Homo sapiens: one gene and its partners. The protein of the gene in region 1 interacts with the protein of each later gene in a pairwise test. Each region holds a gene or a part of one and is shown in the gene's direction. Other genes may lie near its edges.

The links.
Region 2: the proteins of EEF2KMT (region 1) and NR0B1 interact in binary tests that used the Homo sapiens proteins (3 or more experiments, as listed by UniProt).
Region 3: the proteins of EEF2KMT (region 1) and ZNF35 interact in binary tests that used the Homo sapiens proteins (3 or more experiments, as listed by UniProt).

The regions. Positions count from the first base shown.
Region 1 is NC_000016.10:5,087,796-5,091,295, reverse strand, and holds part of EEF2KMT (protein-lysine N-methyltransferase EEF2KMT), read left to right. Parts: intron 1-730; coding exon 731-864; intron 865-946; coding exon 947-1,212; intron 1,213-2,039; coding exon 2,040-2,189; intron 2,190-3,500. UniProt on the Homo sapiens protein: Catalyzes the trimethylation of eukaryotic elongation factor 2 (EEF2) on 'Lys-525'.
Region 2 is NC_000023.11:30,307,138-30,310,962, reverse strand, and holds the start of NR0B1 (nuclear receptor subfamily 0 group B member 1), read left to right. Parts: upstream 1-1,572; 5' UTR 1,573-1,599; coding exon 1,600-2,767; intron 2,768-3,825. UniProt on the Homo sapiens protein: Nuclear receptor that lacks a DNA-binding domain and acts as a corepressor that inhibits the transcriptional activity of other nuclear receptors through heterodimeric interactions.
Region 3 is NC_000003.12:44,651,552-44,655,276, forward strand, and holds part of ZNF35 (zinc finger protein 35), read left to right. Parts: intron 1-1,005; coding exon 1,006-1,150; intron 1,151-3,725. UniProt on the Homo sapiens protein: May be involved in transcriptional regulation. Involved in cell differentiation and/or proliferation.

The DNA.
Region 1 (3,500 bases):
AGCCTGGCCAACATGGTGAAACTCCATCTTTACTAAAAATACAAAAATTAGCGGGGTGTGGTAGTGGGCACCTGTAATCCCAGCTACTAGGGAGGCTGAGGCAGGAGAATCTCTTCAACCCAGGAGGTGGAGGTTGTAGTGAGCCAAGATCATGCTATTGCACTCCAGCCTGGGCAACGAGAGCAAATCTCTGTCTCAAAAAAAAGTACAAAAAGTAGCCGGACATGGTGGCACACGCCTGTATTCGCAGCTACCTGGGCGGCTGAGGCAGGAGAATTGCTTGAACCCAGGAGGCAGAGGTTGCAGTGAGCCAAGATCGTGCCACTGACTCCAGCCTGGGTGACAGAGCTCAAAAAAAAATAAGATAAAACATAGATACAGAAAACCACAAAGGAAAAACAGCATATTGAATCATCACAAGGCAGCCACCCCTTCATAGCCACACCTGTCCCCTGGCCACCACTGACATGTGTTCCATCGCCAGAATTCCGTTGTCTCAGGAAGGTTCGATGAATGGAATCCTGTGTGGCCTGAGATGAGTGTCTTTCACACCGCGTGACACCCTTGAGGCCCGTGAAAGCTGTTGGCATGCCAACAGTTAGCTGCTTCTCATTGCTGAGTGGCGATTGGTCCTGTCATGGTTTATTCAGCCATGTGGTGGGGCTACTTGTCTTCTAAGCCACTTGCCTTCTGATCGCTGGACTGACTCTCTCGCCTTCTCTTGGTGCAGCCCTCGGGAGGCTCGGTCACACTCTCCGAGAGCACGGCCATCATCTCCTACGGTACCACAGGCCTGGTCACATGGGACGCCGCCCTCTACCTTGCAGAATGGGCCATCGAGAACCCGGCAGTCTTCACTAACAGGTGACCTCGGGGCGCAGGGCAGGGCACCGAGGCAGGCTTACCCTGGTGCAGTCGCAGACACGGTCCCCTTTCCTCCCGCCAGGACTGTCCTAGAGCTTGGCAGTGGTGCTGGCCTCACAGGCCTGGCCATCTGCAAGATGTGCCGCCCCCGGGCATACATCTTCAGCGACTGTCACAGCCGGGTCCTTGAGCAGCTCCGAGGGAATGTCCTTCTCAATGGCCTCTCATTAGAGGCAGACATCACTGCCAAGTTAGACAGCCCCAGGGTGACAGTGGCCCAGCTGGACTGGGACGTCGCGACGGTCCATCAGCTCTCTGCCTTCCAGCCAGATGTTGTCATTGCAGCAGGTAATGCCCAGCCCCGGGCACCCTGTGCAGGTGGTGTCCTTGCAGCTCTACCCAGCTCTTGGCTCTGGGAAAAGGGAACAATGGACGCTGTCGGGCATGGACATGATGGGGCTTCCAGAAGAGTTACTCTGGGCCTCCAGGGTGACATCACAGGACAGGGGTGCCTCTTAAGGTGACCTTCAACCCACAGCCCTCTTTTTGGAGACAGGCATACTCCCGTTCCAGTCGTTACCACATGGCTCTGTCCCAGAGCCATGCCCTGTGTCCTTCAGAGACCACAGGAGGAAAACAACCACTTCTGGGACGAAGACAGGGCCCTTGAGAGAAGGTGGTGTTTGGCTGGGCCACCGAAAACCCCTCACCCCTGCCAGCACACTCAGTCCCCTCTCTGGTGGAACAGAGCTCTGCCTGTGGTCCTAGGTCCCAGCCCTGAAACCCACAGGTCCAGCGGTGGCCAGGGACACAAGCCCACCCCTGCAAGCCAGCAGACAAATCAGCAGATGCCTGAAACATGAAGTTCATGGCAGGGTCAGGCTTTGTGTCATTCAAAGCCCTCTAGATAGGCCAAGAACCAGAGCTGGTTTTTTAAGGAACACCAGTGAGTCTGGAGATTTTTTTCTTTTGCTTCGGTCTTTTGCAGCTTTCTCTACTAAGGGTTCTCCTTTTTCACCCAAGTAATTGCCTTTCCATCTAATGGCCCAAATGGTCAAATGGCATCTACTAGTCTCATATGACCGCTGCCTCTCTGGCCTCGCCCTGCTGCTGACGTCAGCATGACCTGGACCTGTCCACTGGTCCCTTTCAGTAACCTGAAGCTTTCACCATAGATGTGCTGTATTGCCCAGAAGCCATCATGTCGCTGGTCGGGGTCCTGCGGAGGCTGGCTGCCTGCCGGGAGCACCAGCGGGCTCCTGAGGTCTACGTGGCCTTTACCGTCCGCAACCCAGAGACGTGCCAGCTGTTCACCACCGAGCTAGGTGAGCCTCCACGCCCACCCGGGCCTGCATGGTCCCTGAGCTGTCCCTGCAGGACGCCAGTGGAAGTGAAAGAACTGGGTGCCGGGGAAAAGCTAGGTTGCCCCACACTCCCACACCATGGGGGGAACTCAGGCAGAGGCCAGTGAGCAGGGTGGGCTTGGGGCGTGGGGGGCTTGCGGCAGGAGGAGGGCAGCTCAGCACAGGGAGGGAGGGTCTGAGCCCAGCAGCCCTACTGTGTGCTTCAGAGCAGGGTTCCCTAAGCCCTTGGGCCTCGGTTTCCTCATCTATAAAATGGAGGTGGCGGGAGGGGCAGTCGGGGTCAGGGCTGGACACAGCTGTGGCCTGCAGGACGCTGGAGCACAGGATGTACAGGCGGATCCACCACGCCACTGTCCTGAGCACCCAGTCGGTGGAAGACGAGCAGGGTGACTGTAGAGAAGGGGAACTGGCCCCATAGTGGGCCAGCAACTGTCCTCAGACCTGACATTTGTCAGCCCCCAGCAACTGTGAGGGTGTGCTGTCACTGTCCCATCTCACCAACAAAGACACTAGGACACACGGAGGCCAAGAGACCCCCGAGCTCCCGCAGACTGCACCCCAGCCACCTGGCTCTCACGCCTCCACACTACACCCAAGCCCCCCAGTGCCACCAGCCTTTGCCCCAGCTCCCCCTGAGCACAGCCCCTCCTGGCAGCCATGTGCACAGATGCACATGCAGCAGCCTCTGCCTGCACACAGAGACACAGACAACCCAGTGCCTGTCCACGTGGGGCAGCCCGTTAACTACAGAGCCAACAAACAAGCCAGCACACGAAGACGTACTGGGTTCCACGACAGAGTCCCCCCACAACCTCGCACAGGAGGCTGGCCGGGCGCAGGGCTCAGGCCTGTCATCCCAGCACTTTAGGAGGCTAAGGCAAGAGGACTACTTGACCCCAGGTGTTCAAGACCAACCTGGGCCACATAGTGGGACCCCATCTTCACAAAACATACAGAAGCTAGCCAGATGTGGTTGCACACGCCTGTAGTCCCAGCTACTCAGGAGGCTGAGGTGGGAGGATGGCTTGAGCCCAGGAGATGGAGGCTGCAGTGAGCCCTGATCTCACCACTGCACTCCAGCCTGGGCAACAGAGCAAGACCCTGTCTCAAAAAAGCAAAGAAATAAAAAATAAAAAAAAAAAAAGGAAGTCTTTCTTCAGATACTTACGTGAAAAAAAACCTGCAATATATTTTAAGTGAAAAAAACAGTGCCAAGCAGCACACATAGTATAAGCCCCCACCCACCTTTTTTTTTTTTTTTTTTTTTGAGAC
Region 2 (3,825 bases), on another chromosome or scaffold:
TTTCCTCTTATGCTGAGAATTCCAGGTCCTGGAGAAGAAGAAAAAGAGAAAGAAAGAGAGAGAGAGAAGGAGTGAGAGAGGGAGGGAGGGAGGGAGGGAGGGAGGAAGGAAGGAAGGAAGGAAGGAAGGAAAGGAAGGAAGGAAGGAAGGAAGGAAGGAAAGGAAGGAAGGAAGGAAGGAAGGAAGGAAGGAAGGAAGGAAGGAAAAGAAACAGCAAAAAAAGAAAGAGGGAGGATGGGAGGGAGGGAAAAAGTAAAAATGATTCTGTATCAGCTGGTATATACCAACACCCTTCCCTGCCCCATGTCTTCACAGCTGTGTGGCAAGTGAAGACTAATGGATCCAGGCTTCCTGATGCTTCTATTTATCATTATTCACTTAGGAAGGGTGGGAAAAGAAATACTAATTACACACTTACCAATGGAATACTTTTACAAGGATCAAAATTTCTCACTGCGGCCATGAAAAAGAATGAGAGCTGGCGGCCATCATGCTTAGCAAAGTAATGCAGGAACAGAAAACCAAATATCACATGTTCTCACTTGCAAGTGGGAGCTAAATAAAGAGATCACCTGGACACTAGGAGGGGAACAACAGACACTGGAACCTACTTGAAGGTGGAGGGTGGGAAGAGGGAGAGAATGAGAAAAAATACCTATTGGATACTATTACCTGGGTGATGAAATAATCTGTACACCAAACCCCCACGACAAGCAATTCACTTATATAACAAACCCGCACATGTACTCCTGAACCTAAAAGTTAAAAGAAAAAAAAATATATACTAAAATGAAAACAATTCTCACTGTAACAATATTATCCCCTCGTAATTATTATATTCCTAAGTTTTAGGCACTTTTACATCCTGCTCGCTGCCCCCAGCTCTCTTAACACAGCATCCAGGACATAGTGGGCGCTTATAAATACTGATGGCATTAAACTGAGCGCTTATGATAGCATATTTAGAGCAGTGCTTTTCAAACGTCTAGGTGCATGTGAATCCCTGGGGACACCGTTAAAATGCAGATTCAGAGTTAGAAAGTCTGGTTGGAGCCTGAGATTGGGCATTTCCACCGAGTTCCCATATGATGCTTGTCTATGTTCTGTATTTTTCAAGGTCTCAGAAAATGAGACCTCCCTATCCATATACAAATATAAGTCACACAAACTGTGATAATTTAATGAAAGTTTACAAAGAGCATAGAAGTAGATGTTTCCTCTTTTCCCCTGCCCTCCCAATAAAGGGAACAAATTAGATGCGAGGGTTCAATGGAAAGAGTTGCAACAGCATCCAGGCGCTCGCTCTCCTCCGGTCTTCCTGAGACAGGGAAAGGGGTAATGAGAGGAAGGAGGAAAGTGTCCAGGAGCTCCCACGCTGCTGTTCTTCCATTTCCAGCTTTTAAAGAGCACCCGCCCCTTCGAACCACCGAGGTCATGGGCGAACACACCGGAGCGCAGCACCGCGCCCCCCCGCACACACCGCCCGCCTCCGCGCCCTTGCCCAGACCGAGGCGGCCGACGCGCCTGCGTGCGCGCTAGGTATAAATAGGTCCCAGGAGGCAGCCACTGGGCAGAACTGGGCTACGGGCGCCGCGGGCCATGGCGGGCGAGAACCACCAGTGGCAGGGCAGCATCCTCTACAACATGCTTATGAGCGCGAAGCAAACGCGCGCGGCTCCTGAGGCTCCAGAGACGCGGCTGGTGGATCAGTGCTGGGGCTGTTCGTGCGGCGATGAGCCCGGGGTGGGCAGAGAGGGGCTGCTGGGCGGGCGGAACGTGGCGCTCCTGTACCGCTGCTGCTTTTGCGGTAAAGACCACCCACGGCAGGGCAGCATCCTCTACAGCATGCTGACGAGCGCAAAGCAAACGTACGCGGCACCGAAGGCGCCCGAGGCGACGCTGGGTCCGTGCTGGGGCTGTTCGTGCGGCTCTGATCCCGGGGTGGGCAGAGCGGGGCTTCCGGGTGGGCGGCCCGTGGCACTCCTGTACCGCTGCTGCTTTTGTGGTGAAGACCACCCGCGGCAGGGCAGCATCCTCTACAGCTTGCTCACTAGCTCAAAGCAAACGCACGTGGCTCCGGCAGCGCCCGAGGCACGGCCAGGGGGCGCGTGGTGGGACCGCTCCTACTTCGCGCAGAGGCCAGGGGGTAAAGAGGCGCTACCAGGCGGGCGGGCCACGGCGCTTCTGTACCGCTGCTGCTTTTGCGGTGAAGACCACCCGCAGCAGGGCAGCACCCTCTACTGCGTGCCCACGAGCACAAATCAAGCGCAGGCGGCTCCGGAGGAGCGGCCGAGGGCCCCCTGGTGGGACACCTCCTCTGGTGCGCTGCGGCCGGTGGCGCTCAAGAGTCCACAGGTGGTCTGCGAGGCAGCCTCAGCGGGCCTGTTGAAGACGCTGCGCTTCGTCAAGTACTTGCCCTGCTTCCAGGTGCTGCCCCTGGACCAGCAGCTGGTGCTGGTGCGCAACTGCTGGGCGTCCCTGCTCATGCTTGAGCTGGCCCAGGACCGCTTGCAGTTCGAGACTGTGGAAGTCTCGGAGCCCAGCATGCTGCAGAAGATCCTCACCACCAGGCGGCGGGAGACCGGGGGCAACGAGCCACTGCCCGTGCCCACGCTGCAGCACCATTTGGCACCGCCGGCGGAGGCCAGGAAGGTGCCCTCCGCCTCCCAGGTCCAAGCCATCAAGTGCTTTCTTTCCAAATGCTGGAGTCTGAACATCAGTACCAAGGAGTACGCCTACCTCAAGGGGACCGTGCTCTTTAACCCGGGTAAGGGTACTGGCCTTAGGCGCCGGCTTTTCCCAGCTCACAAAAGCATCGGGCAGTGCCTATCTAGGGGCGCGGGCAGTAACGAGTTTTCAGTGATCAGGAGAGTGTCGGGGCAAAGGTGAAGAAATCGTGACTAACTCAGCAGAGTTGGGGTGGGGAGCTCCAGGAACCACTTCTGCTGGGTGGGCTGCTATCAGAAACTCAGCCAAGAGGAGGGGAGTTGTTTGTTTAGGTTTGTACTTGGCTCTCTACACATTTCTTACCATAGAAAAGTTTGTGCCTTCATGGGAAATGGTTATTCTTTCTTCTTTAGCTTTCTTTTAAGTCCAGAGCATATCTTTTTCTAAAAAAAGTTTTTGCTCACTGAAGATTCTGCAACATCGATTTCTGAAACCCCATTCTGAAATTTACTAGAACCTTTTTTGGGGGGAGGAAATCTATTAAGGCTAGCAAAAAAGGAAACATTTGTTAAAGGGTCCCATAGAGAGACTATTCCCTAGGGACACACAAGACACTAGATGTAGTGTTTCATGGGCCTGCCTCTGAATGGTTATTTGTATGGTCCTAAGCATCTGGACTATCCCTTCCTCCAAATCTCTGTGAATAATATCAGGTTGGCAAAGGGATAGGGAAAAAAGACACATTAGGGACTGAGAGCAGGAGCACTGTATTTTAGAATTCAAAGAGACTTTAGAGACCTGCTAATCAACCCCCTTTGCTCTGTAGCCTCCCCCCACCCCATTTTACTGAGTAGGTAGATGTGTCCCAAGGTCCCAAGTAAATGGTTGGTGTGTTGTGGCACCTGAGGGTCCTGTCTTCTGGGCCCAGTGGGATATTGGCTGCACTAAACTTTCAGGTTGTCTGTTGGGTGCTGGACACACTGTCCCACAGAGTGCAACCAAATCACTGGAGGAACGTCTCCCTGGACAGCCAGGCACCTTGTCTTGGGTGTTTCTCACTATTAGAATCATCTTCAACCAGCGTCCTTTCAAAATGATTGAAGTGGGAACAAAATTTTCCAGGCAACTTGAGTTGGGATAGTTTTTATAATGCTCCTT
Region 3 (3,725 bases), on another chromosome or scaffold:
GGCACAGTGGCTCACACCTGTAATCCCAGCACTTTGGAGGCCAAGGCGGGAGGATCACTTGAGGTCAGGAGTTCAAGACCAGCCTGAGCAACATTGCACACCTCGTGTTTTGCAATGCCGAAATACAAAAAATTAGCTTGGCATGGTGGCACGTGCCTGTAGTCTCAGCTACTTGGGAGGCTGAGGTGGGAGGATTGATTGAGCCTTGGAGGCATAGGTTGCAGTGAGCCGAATTCATGCCACTGCACTCTAGCCTGGGCAATAGAGTGAGACCCTGCCTCAAAAAAAAAAAAAAAAGAATCTAAGGGTGGGACCTGGGTATCCATGTTTTTTTAAAACTCTTCAGGTAATTTCAGTCAGGTTTTGACAATGCTAACCAGAGCTTCTAAAACTTTAATGTGCATAGGAATCACCTAGGGGTTCTTGTTAAAACAGTTAAAGTTCAGATTCTGATTGAGGATGTCTGGGGGTGGTCTGAGATTCTGTGTTCTTTGTTTGTTTGTTTTGCAAGCTTCCAGGTGATGCAGATACTGCTGCTGATCTTTGCACCACACTTTGATTCATGAGGCTGTACACTGTGCTGTCCTTAATGTTTCAAACACACCCCTTACCATTACTAGTCAAATGAGGGCAGAGGTTCCCCCAGAGCCTTTCTGTAATAATATCATCAAAACCTTGCTGCTTTGATCTTTAGATCCCACAAAAGTTCACTCTGAAAATTCTTCCCATATGCTCTCTCCTCTTATCATGTACTCACTGGTAAGCTAGGTTTAGATTCTGGAGTGAGCAGTGAGGTGCAATCAAAGTAATAAGGAAGAAAGTAGCTAGCTTGTTTCTCTGCCCAACTCACCCTGGGGGTTGGAGGAGACTCTGGCTTCCTTTTCTGTTTTTAAAAATTGTTCTATGGCCTCCAGGAATAGATAATTATGTTCTCATTCTCAAAATTGTAACCACACTACCCCCTACCACCAGTTCCCTCTTAAACATGTGCCTGCTTGTCTCTAGGGTCAGAACATATCCTGGGATATGGCGGTAGTCCTGAAAGCAACTCAGGAGGCACCTGCTGCTTCAACCCTTGGCAGCTACTCATTACCAGGGACTCTGGCCAAGAGTGAGATACTGGAGACTCATGGGACCATGAACTTTCTAGGTATGGTTCAGTTCCCTGATTCTGAATCTGACCATTGGGGTTTCTCAAAATCTTTTCAGAGACTGGTGGGCATCCAGTCTCCTAGGTTGACCAACAGAGTACTGAGGTATTGAAAGTGTCCAGGAAAGCTGGAAAGAGGAATGCTGAAATGCCTGTGCATTTGTCATGGGAAGTGGCTTATTTTGCACACAGGCTCAAGACACTAGACAAACATAGGTGTTGTGCTGAAACCTGATCAACACCAATATGGTACCAGGTTCAAGAGGCTGAAGAAGAGACCCAGAGCCAGCAAACAACATAGAATTTTACTAGGTGTTTATGTACAGGGTAGACAGTCTAGAGGCAGTGGACTGGGCACGGGAGAACCACATGGCCCAGTGGCACAGGCTGGACAGGAGAGCTGCAACTGCTTGCAAAAGGCATGCGGTTTATGTCGCATTTTCACTTAACACCCTCTCCCTAATGACCTCCACCTGGCAGCCTTAATTTAACCCAAAACAAGGGGCCTCAATCCCCTTTAAGGCCCGCATTCCACTGAAAGGGGTGGGGAATGGATAAGGAATGGATCTCCAGGTTGGCCACTTCTGGATTCCTTTGCTTGGAACTCCAAACTATATTCAGGTGTGTCTGCCATACAGGATCATTCTCAGGGTATGCTTAAGTTGTTGCCATCAGGTGTATTTACCATACAATAGGTGAATTCCAAACTCACTTTTTAGTGATATTTATTGTTCAATGAGTTTCATCTCTGTGCACACATGTAGGCACATGTCCTTTTTATACGCTTTGTAGTTAGCATAGGTTGGTGAGCCTGCAAGAGATGCTAGCCGAGGTAGGAACAGTCAACTTTTGTGGTGATTTTGAGCAAATGCCCTGGAGATGTTCTGTTTTCATAGATCTTTGTGCAAATTATAGAGGATTTTGAGCAGCTGTGTTAACCATAATGATGTTCAAAACTAGGTCTTCGTGAAGGGTACTGATGGCTTATCAACTTGTTCTCTCTAAGCTAGGACTAGAGAAAGGGTAGTATGTTCTAAAGATCTCACTGGCAGTGGCAGAAGCTTGCCTGTGGAGGAGTGACATATAAGTGAGGGTCAAGAATGCAGTAGCCATGAGTCCTGTGTTTCAAAGCACTTACTGGCTGATTGCCAAGCCCTATTCTTTTTATGAGTCTGCCAGATATTGAATATTTTGAACCCACTCTCCTCCCTAACCAGTTCCTCAGGCATCTGGGGACCAAGTCACTTTCTTAAACCAGTGCTATGGGGAAGACAAGGATCTCCACCTAGATTTTCTTGTCTCATATTTAATTATTCCCAAACTCTTAGCAGCTTCTGTTCCCCACTTTCTGCTTTGTGTTCCATTCTCTCTGGTGCATTCGCGTGCATGTCACTTATTTTCTGTCTCTGAGCTTTATCAGCCATTCATAGTCTTAACCCCAACAGCTGCACCTCATCAGGAATGGGCTCCCTTTTCCTACTTTGCCTCTTACCTCAAGACCATGTTCATACCCAAGACTTAGTATTTTGTGCTGCCAGCTATTTCCATGGCGATGGCAGGAACACTGCCAACACTATTTCCATGGCGATGTCAGCAGGCGATGGTGGGAACACTGAGCTCTATGTGTGAGAGATATCTGAGTGGGGTTGCTGCCCTGCCTGTAATAACTCTGTGACCTTGAGTAAGTCCCTTCTCTCTCTGGACCTCCATTTCCTGTTCTACAAATTGGGTGTGTTCATTAAGTACAGGATTTGTTGGCGGCCTCCTTCCTATGTGTCAGGCAGCGTGATAGGTGCTGGAGATACAGAAATGAATAAGACACAACCTTGCTCTTTTTTTAGCTGAAGGAGAACAGTTTCATCTTCATGATGAAATTGTATAATATACATGAAAGTGCTTTGGAAATTGTGATGTGTTACTGGGTTTTTAATGTCTGAGCAAGTTTTAACTGTAGTTTTCATATTTTAATTAATGTTGAATTTATTAAAGTTTATTCATTTAAAAACCAATTTTTAAGCCATTAAGCATAACTTTTTACTTCATCCATACATCTAGAAATATTTGTATAAAAGTGAGAACATTTGTATTTTTTCTTTAACTTATGTTCAGTTAAGCTTCAAATTTTACAGATTAAATTTTTTAAACATTTTGGCCGGGCGCAGTGGCTCAAGCCTGTAATCCTAGCACTTTGGGAGGCGGAGGCGGGTGAATCACCTGATATCAGGAGTTCGAGACCAGCCTGGCCAACATGGTGAAACCCTGTCTCTACTAAAAATTCAAAAATTAGCCAGGCATGGTGGTGCGTGCCTATAGTCCCAGCTACTTGGGAAGCTGAAGCAGGAGAATCGCTTGAACCCGGGAGACAGAGGTTGCAGTGAGCCAAGATTGCACCACTGCACTCCAGCCTGGGCAATAGAGCAAGACTCTGTCTAAAAAAATAAATTAATTAAAAATTTTAAACATTTAATTCTACCTGCTTATCAAATTTCTTTATATAAAACATAATTACAAATTTGATATCTTTAGTTCTTTAAAACATTCCAAACACCTAACTGGGCAGACTTACAAATCTTGT